2 separate regions of the Homo sapiens genome follow, and region 1 is linked to region 2. The links come from fine-mapping of genetic effects on gene expression. A gene starts in region 2. The other region holds a variant in brackets. All regions are shown on one strand. Distances are from middle to middle.

Evidence for each region. PIP is the estimated chance that this variant, and not a neighbour inherited with it, causes the effect.
Region 1: its variant is fine-mapped to the expression of VPS13C in prefrontal cortex (BrainSeq, PIP 0.95).

The regions. Positions count from the first base shown.
Region 1 is chr15:62,013,211-62,021,556 of GRCh38, reverse strand. It overlaps VPS13C (vacuolar protein sorting 13 homolog C), which reads left to right. Exons shown (of 85, transcript NM_020821.3): 9 at 1,019-1,078; 10 at 7,565-7,624. Among named protein-coding and RNA genes, the nearest start is that of VPS13C, 43 kb to the left of the region's middle. The variant G/T (reference allele first, on the strand shown) is at 4,047.
Region 2 is chr15:62,055,617-62,063,962 of GRCh38, reverse strand. VPS13C (vacuolar protein sorting 13 homolog C) reads left to right here and starts at 3,516. Exons shown (of 85, transcript NM_020821.3): 1 at 3,516-3,688. The coding sequence starts at 3,589. It overlaps VPS13C-DT (VPS13C divergent transcript), which reads right to left and starts at 3,460. Exons shown (of 2, transcript NR_135690.1): 1 at 3,120-3,460; 2 at 1,529-2,995. RefSeq lists an enhancer at 3,205-3,254 and a silencer at 3,305-3,654.

The DNA.
Region 1 (8,346 bases), 42 kb after region 2:
TCTATAAGACTTTTCTTTAAGATGTCTAAAATGGTGATACTGTGCACACTGTGGTATAGTTTAAGCACTGTGGATTGCAACTTAGATATTGAAGATCAGAAATACAACAAAAACTTAATGTTGACAGATTTTGGATATAGAGACTAAAGAAATTAAATATTAAGGATCTAGAGATTTTCCTAGAAGCATTTTGAAGTGTTAAGAACATTAAAGGCTTAAAGAGATAGTTCATATTTCCAAGTATGAAAGCCTTTTTTTTAAAATGTGTAAATTTAAGGAGTACAAGTGCAGTGTTGTTACATGATATACTGCATAGTGGTGAAGTCTGAACTTTTAGTGTCTCCATCACCCATAATATACATTGTACCCATTAATAAATTTCCTATCATTTACACCTACTTCTCACCCACCCTACCCTTTCAAGTCTCCAATGTGTATTATTCCACACACTGACCACGTGTATTCATTATTTAGCTGCCACTTATAAGTGAGAACGTGCAGTTTGTTTTTCTGCTTCTGGGTTGTTTCACTTAAGATAATGGCCTCCAGTTCCATCCATGTTGCTGCAAAAAAACCCAAACAAACATGTTTTCCTTTTTTATGGCTGAATAGTATTCCACTATGTACCCTAAGTGTTATTAAAATGATTTAGTGGCAGTGTTATCTGTAACACCTTTTAAAATTTATCTGTGAAAAAATCTTTGATTATACACATAAAAAGATTATTCCTTTTTAACTGTCTAGAGAGAAGTCTTGTTAGTCATAGTTAGTGAGTCATCTTCTAGTATGAAAAGAGTTCCACTGGGAAAGGATCTTATTGGTAGCATAGAAATGTTATGTCTACAAAATATGGATAATCCCAGCCATGTTATTACCTCCTTCCCCTGTGTTTTCCACAAATCCATTTGGGTTGTATGGCTTAACCTGTAAACACATTTCCCTCTGCTGCCTATTGTAAAGGACATGGATTCGCCTTCACCATCAGCATATTTTACTGTTATCTTTTCTTCTTTGGTAGGTCACTGATCCAAAGCGGCCTCTTTCATTTGGTGTCACACTGGGAGAGCTTAGTCTACTGGTAATGTTTGCTTTATTTTAAACTTCTATGGAACCTGTAAAGTATTATTCTGAAGTCACAGGGTAAATTGTCTAGAATCAACTATGCGACAAAGAACTATGATTTTTTAAATATATTATCATGCTAAACAACTTTTCTAGAAGTTTAACATTTTTAGTGATGCTATTATTACATTTTAAAATTATTTTTGTCTTTCTGTGTAACAGGTATCAAAATATCATTATCAAATGATTTGAAAGAAATAAAAGCTGTATCTTAAACATGTGGGGGAAGTAGGGGAAGATGAATTTCTGTAGAGTCATGTACTCATCTTCGGTATAGGTAGATGGAATTTCTAAATAGCTTATAGATATGCATATGTTTATGTATGTGTGTGTGTGTGCGCACACTCATCTCATTGGGCAATATGTAAATTAATTTATTTTGATTATTTTATAATGAGTTTTTCTTTTAATGGTCTTTAACAGTAGACAGTGTGTGTCTGTATATATATACACACATACATATATATATATGTATATATATATATAGGCTGGACATTTTTATTTCTATTACAGGCAACTAAGTGGTAGGAAACATGTTTTGGGGCATGTATGGAGAGGAAGATGTGGTTCACTTAGATACTTTTAAAGTTAAGGACAGTACAGGAATTGAATTCAGCTCTGCACCAAGCAGACCCAATAGACATCTACAGAACTGTCCACCCCAAATCAACAGAATATACATTCTTCTCAGCACCACACCTCACCTATTCCAAAATTGACCACATAGTTGGAAGTAAAGCACTCCTCAGCAAATGTAAAGAACAGAAATTATAACAAACAGTCTCTCAGACCACAGTGCAATCAAACTAGAACTCAGGATTAAGAAACTCACTCAAAACCACTCAACTACATGGAAACTGAACAACCTTCTCCTGAATGACTACTGGGTGCATAACGAAATGAAGGCAGAAATAAAGATGTTCTTTGAAACCAACGAGAACAAAGACACAACATACCAGAATCTCTGGGACACATTAAAAGCAGTGTGTAGAGGGAAATTTGCAGCACTAAATGCCCACAAGAGAAAGCAGGAAGGATCTAAAATTGACACCCTAACATCACAATTAAAAGAACTAGAGCAGCAAGAGCAAACACATTCAAAAGCTAGCAGAAGGCAAGAAATAACTAAGATCAGAGCAGAACTGAAGGAAATAGAGACACAAAAAACCCTTCAAAAAATCAATGAATCCAGGAGCTGGTTTTTTGAAAAGATCAACAAAATCGATAGACTGCTAGTAAGACTAGTAAAGGAGAAAAGAGAGAAGAATCAGATAGACGCAATAAAAAATAGTAAAGGGGATATCACCACCGATCCCACAGAAATACAAAACTACCATCAGAGAATACTATAAACACCTCTACGCAAATAAACTAGAAAATCTAGAAGAAATGGACAAATTCCTCGACACATACACCCTCCCAAGACTAAACCAGGAAGAAGTTGAATCTCTGAATAGATCAATAACAGGCTCTGAAATTGAGGCAATAATTAATAGCTTACCAACCAAAAAAAGTCCAGGACCAGACGGATTCACAGCCGAATTCTACCAGAGGTACAAGGAGGAGCTGGTACCATTCCTTCTGAAACTATTCCAATCAATAGAAAAAGAGGGAATCCTCCCTAACTCATTTTATGAGTCCAGCAGCATCCTGATACCAAAGCCTGGCAGAGACACAACCAAAAAAGAGAATTTTAGACCAATATCCTTGATGAACATCGATGCAAAAATCCTCAATAAAATACTGGCAAACCGAATCCAGCAGCACATCAAAAAGCTTATCCACCATGGACAAGAAGGCTTCATCCCTGGGATGCAAGGCTGGTTCAACATACGCAAATCAATAAATGTAATCCAGCATATAAACAGAACCAAAGACAAAAACCACATGATTATCTCAATAGATGCAGAAAAGGCCTTTGACAAAATTCAACAGCCCTTCATGCTAAAAACTCTCAATAGATTAGGTATTGATGGGATGTATCTCAAAATAATAAGAGCTATTTATGAAAAACCCACAGCCAATATCATAGTGAATGGGCAAAAACTGGAAGCATTCCCTTTGAAAACTGGCACAAGACAGGGATGCCCTCTCTCACCACTCCTATTCCACATAGTGTTGGAAGTTCTGGCCAGGGCAGTCAAGCAGGAGAAAGAAATAAAGGGTATTCAATTAGGAAAAGAGGAAGTCAAATTGTCCGTGTTTGCAGATGACATGATTGTATATCTAGAAAACCCCATCGTCTCAGCCCCAAATCTCCTTAAGCTGATAAGCAACTTCAGCAAAGTCTCAGGATACAAAATCAATGTGCAAAAATCACAAGCATTCTTATACACCAATAACAGACAAACGGAGAGCCAAATCATGAGTGAACTCCCATTCACAATTGATTCAAAGAGAATAAAATACCTAGGAATCCAACTTACAAGGGACGTGAAGGACCTCTTCAAGGAGAACTACAAACCACTGCTCAATGAAATAAAAGAGGACACAAACAAATGGAAGAACATTCCATGCTCATGGATAGGAAGAATCAATATCGTGAAAATGGCCATACTGCCCAAGATAATTTATAGATTCAGTGCCATCCCCATCAAGCTACCAATGACTTTCTTCACAGAATTGGAAAAAACTACTTTAAAGTTCGTATGGAACCAAAAAAGAGCCCACATTGCCAAGTCAATCCTAAGCCAAAAGAACAAAGCTGGAGGCATCACGCTACCTGACTTCAAACTATACTCCAAGGCTACAGTAACCAAAACAGCATGGTACTGGTACCAAAACAGAGATACAGACCAATGAAACAGAACAGAGCCCTCAGAAATAATACCACACATCTACAACTATCTGATCTTTGACAAACCTGACGAAAACAAGCAATGGGGAAAGGATTCCCTATTTAACAAATGGTGCTGGGAAAACTG[G/T]CTAGCCATATGTAGAAAGCTGAAACTGGATCCCTTCCTTACACCTTATACAAAAATCAATTCAAGATGGACTAAAGACTTACATGTTAGACCTAAAACCATAAAAACCCTAGAAGAAAACCTAGGCAATACCATTCAGGACATAGGCATGGGCAAGGACTTCATGTCTAAAACACCAAAAGCAATGGCAACAAAAGCCAAAATTGACAAATGGGATCTAATTTAACTAAAGAGCTTCTGCACAGCAAAAGAAACTATCATCAGAGTGAATAGGCAACCTACAGAATGGGAGAAAATTTTTGCAACCTACTCATCTGACAAAGGGCTAATATCCAGAATCTACAAAGAACTCAAACAAATTTAGAAGAAAAAAACAACCCCATCAACAAGTGTGCGAAGGATATGAACAGACACTTCTCAAAAGAAGACGCTTCTCAAAAGAAGACATTTATGCAGCCAACAGACACATGAAAAAATGCTCATCATCACTGGCCATCAGAGAAATGCAAATCAAAACCGCAATGAGATATCATCTCACACCAGTTAGAATGGCGATCATTGAAAAGTCAGGAAACAACAGGTGCTGGAGAGGATGTGGAGAAATAGAAACACTTTTACACTGTTGGTGGGACTGTAAACTAGTTCAACCATTGTGGAAGACAGTGTGGCGATTCCTCAGGGATCTAGAACTAGAAATACCATTTGACCTAGCCATCCTATTACTGGGTATATACCCAAAGGAATATAAATCATGCTGCTCTAAAGACACATGTACACATGTGTTTACTGCAGCACTACTCACAATAGCAAAGACTTGGAACCAACCCAAGTGTCCAACAGTGATAGACTGGATTAAGAAAATGTGGCACATATACACCATGGAATACTATGCAGCCATAAAAAATGATGAGTTCATGTCCTTTGTAGGGACATGGATGAAGCTGGAAACCATCATTCTCAGCAAACTATTGCAAGGACAAAAAACCAAACACTGCATGTTCTCACTCATAGGTGGGAATTGAACAATGAGAACACTTGGACACAGGAAGGGGAATATCACACACTGGGGCCTGTTGTGGGGTCGGGGGAGGGGGGAGGGATAGCATTAAGAGATATACCTAATGTAAATGACGAGTTAATGGGTGCAGCACACCAGCATGGCACATGTATACATACGTAACTAATCTGCACGTTGTGCACATGTACCCTAGAACTTAAAGTATAATAAAAATATATATATATATAAAATAAAGTTAAGGACAGTGAACCATATATCATACCAGACAAGTTTGCCTTATGACTACTTATATGGAGAGGGCCTCAATAAGGAAAGAAGAGGAAGAAGAATGGTAGGGTGGTAGACTGGCAGAGAAACAGAAAAAGAAGGACATGGTTATGTGGAAGGCTTCACAATGTTGTGGGCATATAGAGAAGTAGAGATACACATCGCATTGAAGAACAGAGCAGAAACAATAAAGAAAAAGAGAGAGCTGAAGAAACAAAGGAAAGGCAGTGAAGGAAACTAGTTTTTTTTTTTTTTTTTTTTTTTTGGACTTCTTTTTTTATTTTTTATTTTTATTATACTCTAAGTTTTAGGGTACATGTGCACATTGTGCAGGTTAGTTACATATGTATACATGTGCCATGCTGGTGCGCTGCACCCACTAACGTGTCATCTAGCATTAGGTATATCTCCCAATGCTATCCCTCCCCCCTCCCCCCTCCCCCGACCCCACCACAGTCCCCAGAGTGTGATATTCCCCTTCCTGTGTCCATGTGATCTCATTGTTCAATTCCCACCTATGAGTGAGAATATGCGGTGTTTGGTTTTTTGTTCTTGCGATAGTTTACTGAGAATGATGGTTTCCAATTTCATCCATGTCCCTACAAAGGACATGAACTCATCATTTTTTATGGCTGCATAGTATTCCATGGTGTATATGTGCCACATTTTCTTAATCCAGTCTATCATTGTTGGACATTTGGGTTGGTTCCAAGTCTTTGCTATTGTGAATAGTGCCGCAATAAACCATAAAAACCCTAGAAGAAAACCTAGGCATTACCATTCAGGACATAGGCGTGGGCAAGGACTTCATGTCCAAAACACCAAAAGCAATGGCAACAAAAGCCAAAATTGACAAATGGGATCTAATTAAACTCAAGAGCTTCTGCACAGCAAAAGAAACTACCATCAGAGTGAACAGGCAACCTACAACATGGGAGGAAACTAGTTTATCCTTTGCCTGTTTCCAAAATGAATTTGAGGTAGCTTTCGACAAAAACAAGTATACAGTAACACCTTTAAAGAGGATAGAATCTGTGTTCTAAAGGATAGAGAGAGAATTGTTCCAGAAAACTGTGACTAATGATAGTGGTCATAAGGGAGCAGAGTAACTTTGAGCTTCTAGCAGACAATGCAAAAAATACAAAATAGTCATATACCTCCTATTGTCTGATAACAGGTATACTATTGCATAAGAATGGGTAGTTTCCTTAGTGTTTGCTGCTGTTTGTCCCTTTGTATCTTTGCTCAGACTCTTCATTCTGCTTTAGTTGTCTGTATTACTTTCTGCCTGGTGATTCTACTCAAGTTTTAATACTTAAGTAATATATGACCTTTCTTTCTCATTCTTTTTCACTTCCTTCTTAGAATTTACCATTCCCTCTTTTATGCTTCCTATTGTATTTTGTCAAAGACCTGTAAAATATTATTGTACTGGTTATCATGTTAATCTCCTTCTGTCAAAACCACATTCATTCACTGAAGTAGTACCTACCTTTTAGTGTTTTTGTGATGATTAAATGAGATAGTTTATGTAAAGCTTTTGGCACATTGTCTGGCTCAATTATTTCCTGCTATTATAGTGGCTATTATAACAACTACAGCAATAGTAAACCTACCTCTTTTGTATCCATACCATTTATTTTTCTTTGCAATTACAATCTAACTTATAAATCTAAAGTTATCCTCCCACCTCTGATCTGGATCTCATTTTACCTATGTGCTCACTGTACTCTCACTCTACTACTCCACTGAAACAGTTCTTAACAAGTTTCTCAATAACGCCCTTGCTGCTAAATAAGTTTAGTGTTTGGTGTTGCTGAACATGCTGTCCTTGTAGAAACTTGGTCATGCTGTAATTTCCATACTCTCCTGGTTTTCTTCCTATTACAAAACAATTACTTGTTTTTTTAAAAAGAATGTATACCATATTCAATAGTGTATAGGCTGGCTCTCTGTTTTCATTCATACCTGATTCTTTCCACAGTTCAAATACATATTAACCCAGTAATTATTTTCTGAATGAATGAACTCAAATTAGAATCATGTCAATTCTCTTTTCATTGTTTCTTTGATTTTGTCTTATAAATATATGTAAAGAAATAGATAGCTAATACTAGTTAACATTAAGTAGATGTCATTTCTTCCTAAATTATTTTGTTACATTATGTAAGTATTAGAGCGCTATTAATGACATCCATACCACGTTTCACAGGTATTCCCTTTTTTCTTTTAGACTGCAAATGAACACTGGACTCCATGCATATTAAATGAAGCAGACAAAATTATATACAAGGTATTATGTTGGAATAAAAATTTTTGTTAGTTTCCTAGGTGCACTTAATTTATTTTCTTGAAGAAACATTGATGGAGCAGAATATGCCATTGGAGTGTGAGTTAAAAGTCTAGGGTCTAGTTTTGGCCCTGCTACTTACTATGTGACCCTCTGTAATCACTTACCAGTTCTGAGATATAGGTTCTTTACCTATCAAGTGAAGATACAGGATACAGTTAATACTTCCCAAATGGTACTTTATTAGATATTGAGATATTTTGAGATGTTGTAGAGAAAATATTCTCTGATCAAGTAAGATTATTGATTAAAGTACTAAGCTATACATAATTAAACAGATACGTTTCATTTTATTTTAAACTATAGAGCTTTAGATATGTTAACAAACACTGTGAATCTCCAAGAGGGCTATTTAGTATGTAGCTTTCCCACCTTGTTGACCATAGACTCCTCTGCTACCACCTGTTTTCAGGAAACAGCTATTCATATCTGCTGGAGGGATCATGTCTTTTTTTTTTCAGCAAAATATTTACAGGGTCTGTTAAATACTAATTTCTGAATAAATATTTGATAATTGAATGAATGAGTTCCTTGGAAATAGTGTTCTTGAAAGTGCAATTTAGCAAATGCTAGACTTAATAAAGTCTGAATAACATGAATATATTTTCCCCTCATTTTTATGTTATTTTCTTTCCTTTAAAAATTCAAAATGGCATTTGGGTAAT
Region 2 (8,346 bases):
CAGTACTTGGGAGAATGGTGTAACAGGGTGCCCGGAACACACAAATCTACTCACAGGAAGACAGTGGCTGTTCCAAGCTCCCAGCTGTAGCTGTGGGAACATCCAGTATTGGAGCTGGAAAACAATTCTGTAAAGTGAGCATGAATAGACCACATACCATCAAGACCAGAGGTGCTCTAAGAGTAAAAGGAAATTAAACATTTTAAAGCATACTTACAAAAATATAGGAGGTTGAGTGTCAAGGAAAGCAAGAAGAGAGATTACAACCAATAAAACACCAGTGTTCTGACTTATGCATCTTGTTCAACACAACTAGAGTATGGGGTACTGGAAAGAATACAGAGCAGGGAGTCAGGACACTTGGGTTTGGGTTTTTGCTCTGACAGTCACTAACTTGTGGGACTTTGGGCAAACCCTTAATTCTCCCTGGCACTCAGTGTCTCCATCTGTCAATTGAGGGGGCTGGATTAACAGGATGATCCTCCCTCTGGCACTAACATTCTGAAATCCACTCCCGTGCTTTCTCCTAGTTAACCTCCCTAACTTTTCCTGCAGTCCATGGTGTCATGGCTTATACTCCAGCTTTCTCCTCCATTTCCTTTCCCCCAAATTCCTTCTGCTTTTCTCCAAAAACTCTAGGGTTGGGGAATAGGGTATGGGTGGTGGTTAGTGTGAAGTTTTTTTTTTTTTTTTAAACACTTTTGAGTTAATTTTTAAGTGTCCCTAACTTATACTTTTGTTTTTAACAGAAATACTTTGCTCATCTGTTTTTATTGTTTAGTCCCTCATTGAAGTTTAGTTTTGTAATTTCCTTTGTTGTCATTCTCATTGTTCTTAAGCCAGAATGAAGGCAAGAACTATAATTAATTAGAATGCTCATTTTCTTTAACCTCTGTTATCCAAATTATTTCTGATATAATGCCATACATAAGGGTGCTAATGGTGTTTCTTGACATTGGTTATAGTTTGTTTTAAATTGGGACTGTATATTTCTGACTTGTTAAATAATGGAAGATTTGGGGCATTACTGAATGCACATAATCAATCCCTTAAAACATGCTGAAAATGGAAAATAGTAAAATTTAAAGCTTTTTATACTACATGATAATAGCATTTTTTTGTACCAAAAATGTAGAGCCAAATTTTCCACTCTGAGATTTATTTTTTCTGTCATGAACCTTTCAAAGTAAGATCTCTGAAAATGACTAATAGCCCAGTGTTGATTAAATTGTATAATTACCAGAAGAGAAAAGGGTGGCAGTGCTCAGAGAATCAAAGGAAATTAATATCTGCTGTGTGACTTTGGGTAAGTCACTTAACATTCCCGAGCTTAATTTTTCTGTAAAATGAGGACCATACTACTACCTGCATTAGCTACCTCACAGCTCTTTTGTGAGGAGTACACAAAAATGCCTACCTTCGCATAATAATGACATGAGGCCTTACAAAGTATAACTGAAACATAATAAAATTGAATGATGCATATGAAAGCACATTTACACATTATTCTTTCAAAATTACCAAGTTATACCATAGAACTGTAAGGAATTACTTTATTAGACAAAGCATTAGTGTTACTCACTTCTCCCAAGAGATTGTGCCTATTGCTCCACCTGCTTGACCAAGCTATGTTGCCTGTGCCATCTTTCCTATCATCTTATACTGTTATTCATACATCCTTGGATTGGCTTCTTTCTTAACTTTTTATGGTACATGCCTTATCTCAACCAGAACATATATTGCTTCTTTACATTCCTCTTGGAGCATAGTCAGTGTGAATGTAAAAAGGAAGCGGGATTGTTAGAGTGTATGACTAGAAAGAACGTGGAGAAAGTTTGAAGAGAGTGTTCTAAACACTGGGAAGTTATTGGATGTTTTTGAGCAGGTGACTAACCTAAGCTCACCTGTGCTTTGGGAAAACACATCCGGTGTTCATGAGAATAGACTGGAGGAAGGAATAACTGGAGGCTAGGAAGTGAATTTCAAGGAGATGGATGGCATGGTCCAGAAGAAAAACATGGAGAATTTAGGAAAGATGGCAAAAGCAAAATAGACAGGTTAGGCTGTTATTTGGTTGTGGATGGTGAAGAAATCCAAAGTACTTACTAGTATTTTGTCTTTGTGACCAGCTAGGAAAAACAGACGGTTAAGGATTTATCTTCTTAAAGAGGAATGGAGTGTGCAAAAGTGGGAGAGGAATGTGATCTTGATAGTACTAGTTAGTACTGACTGGGTCTTTCTTTGTACTTTTAATTTTATTTAATACACAACACCAATTGTAGCCATTTTGATTTTCTTTCTTCTCCAGCGGACTTTGAATTTAAGATTTTTCTTTGTGATCCTGTGCAAGCCTAGGTTGTTTAAGAAAAATACACGAATAGTTTCTCAGACACTTCCTCGTAGCAAAGCACTTATTAATGCTTGTGACTACAAATAATCAGCATTTCTTAGGTTTCTTCCTGTGTACTGTATCTCAACAACTTTTTGAAATATATTTTAGGAAAAAATTTCTAGTTCTCTAAAGAGGTGAATCTCAATGGGTGGTTAAATTTCACAAGGGTTGAAAGATCTTGTGGTATAAAAGCTCTGCTTTTAAGGTCGTGCTACATCAAAGACAGTTCAACGATAGCATGGAAGAAAGTGATATATAAATAACAAGTAACTCATACTTAAAAAGGCACTACTACGTTTTGTTTTTTATATCTGTAATGAGATAGGTAACTGGTTAGTGGCTAGTGAATTAAAAGCGAATCTTAGAGAAAGGGGAAAAGAACGCGTTTCCCACAAAACGCGTATATTCAGTTCTCATTCTATGATATCTGCCATTTGATGTGGTTCTGTTCCCCTCCTCCCACTTTCAAATTATTTGTCGCGCGCCAGTGGTCCCAGCTACTCGGGAGGCTGACACAGGAGGATCTCTTGAGTCCAGGATGTCAAGTCTGTAGTGAGCTATGATCCCGACACTGCATTCTACCCTTGGCAACAGAGCGAGACCCTGTCTCAAAACAAAACAAAACAGAAACAAAATAAAAAAACAATGTTTTCAAGAAGCAGAGACCAAGCCCCAGGCGGAGTCGAACTCTAGCAGGACAAGAACGCGGTCGGTCCCTTTCCCCCACCTGATCCACAGGTGCAGGGGTGGTTGCCTAGGTGACGCTCAGCGCATACTCCAGGCCAGGCGGCTCCGGACACCGCGATGCGGCCGGAGTTCAACAGCAGGTGACGGCGGGAAAGCAGAGCGGCCACATAGATGTCCCTGTACTCGGTAACTCTTGCCCTCCCTTGTTCTTCTCGAAGGTCCTTTTTTTTCTCGTGCACGGCTGACGAGACAGGCGCAAGCTAACTTCCCCCGCACTCCTCCGTCGGCCTCTAGAGGGCCAGGGCTGCGGCGCCTACAAAGCCTCGGGATCACAGCTGGGCCTCCTTAGCTACCGGCCGGGCGACAGCGCGCCTGCGCACCGGCGGGGTCACGCGCGCGGCGCGGGGGTGGGCCTGCGCCGGAGGGGCTGTCATTTGCAGCGCTGGTCGCAGCCCTCAGCTGCGCCGGGCGGTTCCGGCTCCTCCCTCTCCTTGTGCCTCAGCGCCACCATGGTGCTGGAGTCGGTGGTCGCGGACTTGCTGAACCGCTTCCTGGGGGACTATGTGGAGAACCTGAACAAGTCCCAGCTGAAGCTGGGCATCTGGGGCGGTAAGCGAGAGGGCGCGGCCAGTGGGCTGCGGGCGCTGAGGGCCCAGCCGAGGGCTGCTCCGTCCGGGATTCTGCCCGGGCCCTGCTCCCTGCGCCGCCTGAGACTCCCCATCCCGGTGCGGCAGGTGCTAGATGCGGGAGCCTCTGCCGCCCGCGGATTCTCGGGGTCCCAGTCCCGACTCCGGCTGGGGAGATGCGGCGGGATCCCGCCCGCGCTGCCAAAGTTCCCACCTTTCTCGTCCCCCGAGGCCAAGCCCTGGCCCTGCTGTCCCCGCCCTGCCCGTTTCTGTGGTCCTCTCGCTGCACTCAGGGTGGCCCCTTTGGCCCTACAGCATAAAAACAGAGCCCTTTCTGTTTCGGTATCGCGTGGAGTGAGCATGGTTGTCTGGTCATATACGCTCGAAGTGGCACTAAGAAAAAAGGAGGAAGTTGCATCTCGCAGTTATCTTCACTATCATTTTACAGGGAGCAAGAACTGGGTTCCTTCTCTTTAGGATTACCGGGTTTGGAGAGGAACGGGCAGGAGATCTTTAAGATAGGCGTGTGCTTAGGGATTCTTACTCTTAATGCTTTCAGCTCCTGTGAAAATGATTTCTTCCTTTAATATTTACTTTTCCGTCAATACGAAGAGGATTTTGAATTTTGTTTTGGAGCAATAGAGAGAAATTCAAGCCTCGACCAGCATCGTCATTAATTAGGTGTCTGCTTGGTTGCATGCTCAGGAATTTATGCCAACGTTTTTATCCTGGAGATTAAGTGTATAAAAGTATTCAGGAAATAGTGTACTTAAACATACACTCTTCAACGAGCTTAATCGTTTGCATGAATTACGTGTTAAGCTTTGAGGACTTTGGGACTTTCTCACTCCACAAAAGGTTTGGGAACTTTGTCAGCTTTGGAGGAAAATTCAAAAAACGACTCAAATGTATGGATCTGCTTTTAATTCAAGCAACAACAAATAGCTATAGACTTCCCCTGTCCACTAGGGTAACCACTAGCCACTGTAGCTGTGGAGCACTTGATATGAGGTTAGTGCTAATTGAGACTTGCTGTATGAATTAAAACATCGTTTTGAATAAGCATTACTCCTAATGAAGTAGGAGAAAAAAATAATACCTCAATAATTTTTATGTTGCTTATGTGTTGAAATAATATTTGAATATATTGGGTTAAATTAAATATAATATTAAAGTGTATTTCCCGTGTTTTTTAGTTTTACTTTTTTTCTTTTTAAACTTGGCTTCTAAAATTTATAATTACGTATATGGAACATATATTGGGCAATGCTGTTTATACCCTGAATTACGGAAGAGCCTGGTTGTTGTTGTTGTTGTTTTTTTTTTTTGGCTTGTCTTTTTGAGACAAGGACTTGCTCTGTTGCCAAGGCTGGAGTGCAGTGGCAAGATCGTAGCTCATTGCAGCCTCCAACTCCTGGGCTGAAGTGATCCTCCTGCCTCAGCCTCCCAAAGTGCTAGGATTACAGGTGTGAGCTATAGTGCCTGGCAAGAGCCTGTTTTTAATAGGTGGCTGATCATTTGATTGGTTCACTGTGGTTTGCCCAACAATACAATAGTCCCTTGGTATCTATGGGGGATTGGCTTCAGTACCCCTGACCATACCAAAATTGGAGGTTGCTCAAGTCCCTTAAATAAAATGGCCTAGTATTTGTATGTACCCTATGCATATCCTTCTGTATACTTTTGGTCATCTCTGGATTGCTTATAATACCCAATAAGTAAGTGCTATGTAAATAGTTGTTCTGTTGTTTTTTAATTTGCATTTTTTTATTGCTGAATTGATACTTTTTATTTTTTCCCCCCGAAATATTTTTGGTCTGCAGTTAGTTCAGTCCGTGAATATGGAGGGCCTACTGTACATTCTTTGTTTACATCCCCCCACCACACTCAATACAATGTAAAGGAAAGGTAAGTAAAGAAAGACACATTTAAGGAATTAAATGACCAGCATCTTCTGCAGAAATCAAGTATTTCTTCAGAATACTGGCAATATTCTTTCCAGTGATTCCTTATAGTTTGTAAACATTTGAAACTTGAAAACGCACCGGAGTAGCAAATCTGAAATCTGAATAGGCCTAGTGAATGGTGTGCTGTGTTGGACAAGCCACTTACCTTATTGGGCCTTAGTTTCTTCATCTTAATTTAAACTTTATAGAAAAAATATTTTTAAATTCTGAAAAGTTTAAATCATACTGGATGATATAATACTTTCATGTAATTACTCATATTTCAATGTTATAATATTATGCCATATTTACTTTAGACATTTTCTTTTTAAAAAGATAAAACGTATGGATATAGTCAGAGGTTCCATTGCCATCAAATGTTACTCTCTTTTATCTTTAAAATTGGAGGTTGGACTAGGTAACATCGAAGGTGATGCCAATATTCTGTTCTTCTGATAATGGTTTTACCATGACATTGAGGAGTATACTGCTTGAAGATTTTGAAGTTTTTCACAACTGAAATTAAAAATGTCGTAATTTTATGTTATTTCCCCTTTTGTCTTTTTTTGGTGAAATCTAGAAAAGGAGACTTTCTTTCATCTCATTTTTAAATTTTTAGAATAAGGTATTCTGCCAGTGGCCAACATTAACTTTATAATAGGCCTGAGCAAATAAACCCATTTCTTTCACATATTGTGTCTAGTGAACATCCAATCAGGGATTCTCCTAGCTTTATCAGCTCACAACTCTGCCTCTGTAAAGCTTTGCTGCCTTTTATTTTTGTGGTTGCTATAAAGCTAGAAGTCACGAGCTTTTATCATTATTGCACAGTCTGTTGTTGATAACCCTAATTTCTCAATAAAATTGGAAGGCAAGATATCTGAGTTGATTTTTCCTGTTCTTTCAAAATATTGCTAAAGAAATTTGTCTTAAACTTTTTTGGGTAAACAAATGGGAATATTAATTTAATAAAATAGGTGACATTTTATGATAACCATGATGTTGACAAGTTTTACAAAAAATTGAAAATTCTATATAATCTTCTTTGACAACTATTTGCTTTAGCAGATAAGGTTTACAGTTCACAGAGTTTTTTTTTTGTTGTTGTTGTTGAATTTTCAAGTCTTGAGAAAGGGAAGAATTCATCTTGTAAATATTTCACTGTAGGGACCAGCCCCACAGGGTCGGTGGGTCTCTCCCTGTGTGCGGCGACGAGAGAGTGTAGAAATAAAGACACAAGACAAAGAGATAAAAGAAAAGACAGCTGGGCCCGGGGGACCGCTACCACCAATGCGCGGAGACCGGTAGTGGCCCCGAATGTCTGGCTGCGCTGTTATTTATTGGATACAAAGCAAAAGGGGCAGGGTAAAGAGTGTGGGTCATCTCCAATGATAGGTAAGGTCACGTGGGTCACGTGTCCACAGGACAGGGGGCCCTTCCCTGCCTGGCAGCCGAGGCAGAGAGAGAGAGGAGACAGAGAGAAAGATAGCTTATGCCGTTATTTCTGCATATCAGAGACTTTTACTACTTTCACTAATTGACTACTGCTATCTAGAAGGCAGAGCCAGGTGTACAGGATGGAACATGAAGGCGGACTAGGAGCGTGACCACTGAAGCACAGCATCACAGGGAGACGGTTAGGCCTCCGGATAACTGCGGGCAAGCCTGACTGATGTCAGGCCCTCCACAAGAGGTGGAGGAGCAGAGTCTTATCTAAACTCCCCCGGGGAAAGGGAGCCTCCCTTCCCTGGTCTGCTAAGTCGCGGGTGTTTTTCCTTGACACTTTTCGCTACCGCTAGACCACCTTCCGCTCGGCAACGGGCGTCTTCCTAGATGCTGGCGTTACCGCTAGACCAAGGAGCCCTTCTGCTGGCCCTGTCCGGGCATAACAGAAGGCTCGCACTCTTGTCTTCTGGTCACACCTCACTATGTCCCCTCAGCTCCTATCTCTGTATGGCCTGGTTTTTCCTAGGTTATGATTGTACAGCGAGGATTATTATAATATTGGGATAAAGAGTAATTACTGCAAACTAATGATTAATGATATTCATATATCTCTAAGATCTATATGGTATAACTATTCTTGTTTTATATTTTATTATACTGGAACAGCTCGTGTCCTTGGTCTCTTGCCTTGGCGCCTGGGTGGCTTGCCGCCCACCTCACATACCTGATCTTACTATTCTTTGGAATCAATTGATAAACTACTTTGATACATCTTAACTGGAATGTCTAACTAGCCTAAAGCAGTGATTTTCAGTGGGAGGTGACTTTGTACCCAGGGTATATTTGACAGTGTCTGAGACTTTTTGGTTGCCACACTGAGGGAAGAGGTGTGCTATTGGCATGTAGCAGATAGACCCTGGAGTACTGCTAAACATTCTACAATGCAGAGGACAACTTCCTGCAGCGAATTGTCCAGCTCAAAATGTTAGTTGAGAAACCCTAGTCTAAGAAGAAGACTGAGATTGTCTTCTGCATTTGTAAGGGACCTACTGGGTGCTGAAAAAATTGTAAGGTTTTAAAAAGGACACGGAAGAAGTAGATTACTCTTAACGAAATCTGTAATTCGAGAGAGAAATTGATATCTTAAGTGACTGAAAGGTATCATGTCAATAAAAATGCGTAATCTTTGCTTGGATGATCTTTGGAAGTAGTTTTAAGATCGAAATATTGTGTTAACATGATTTGGAAA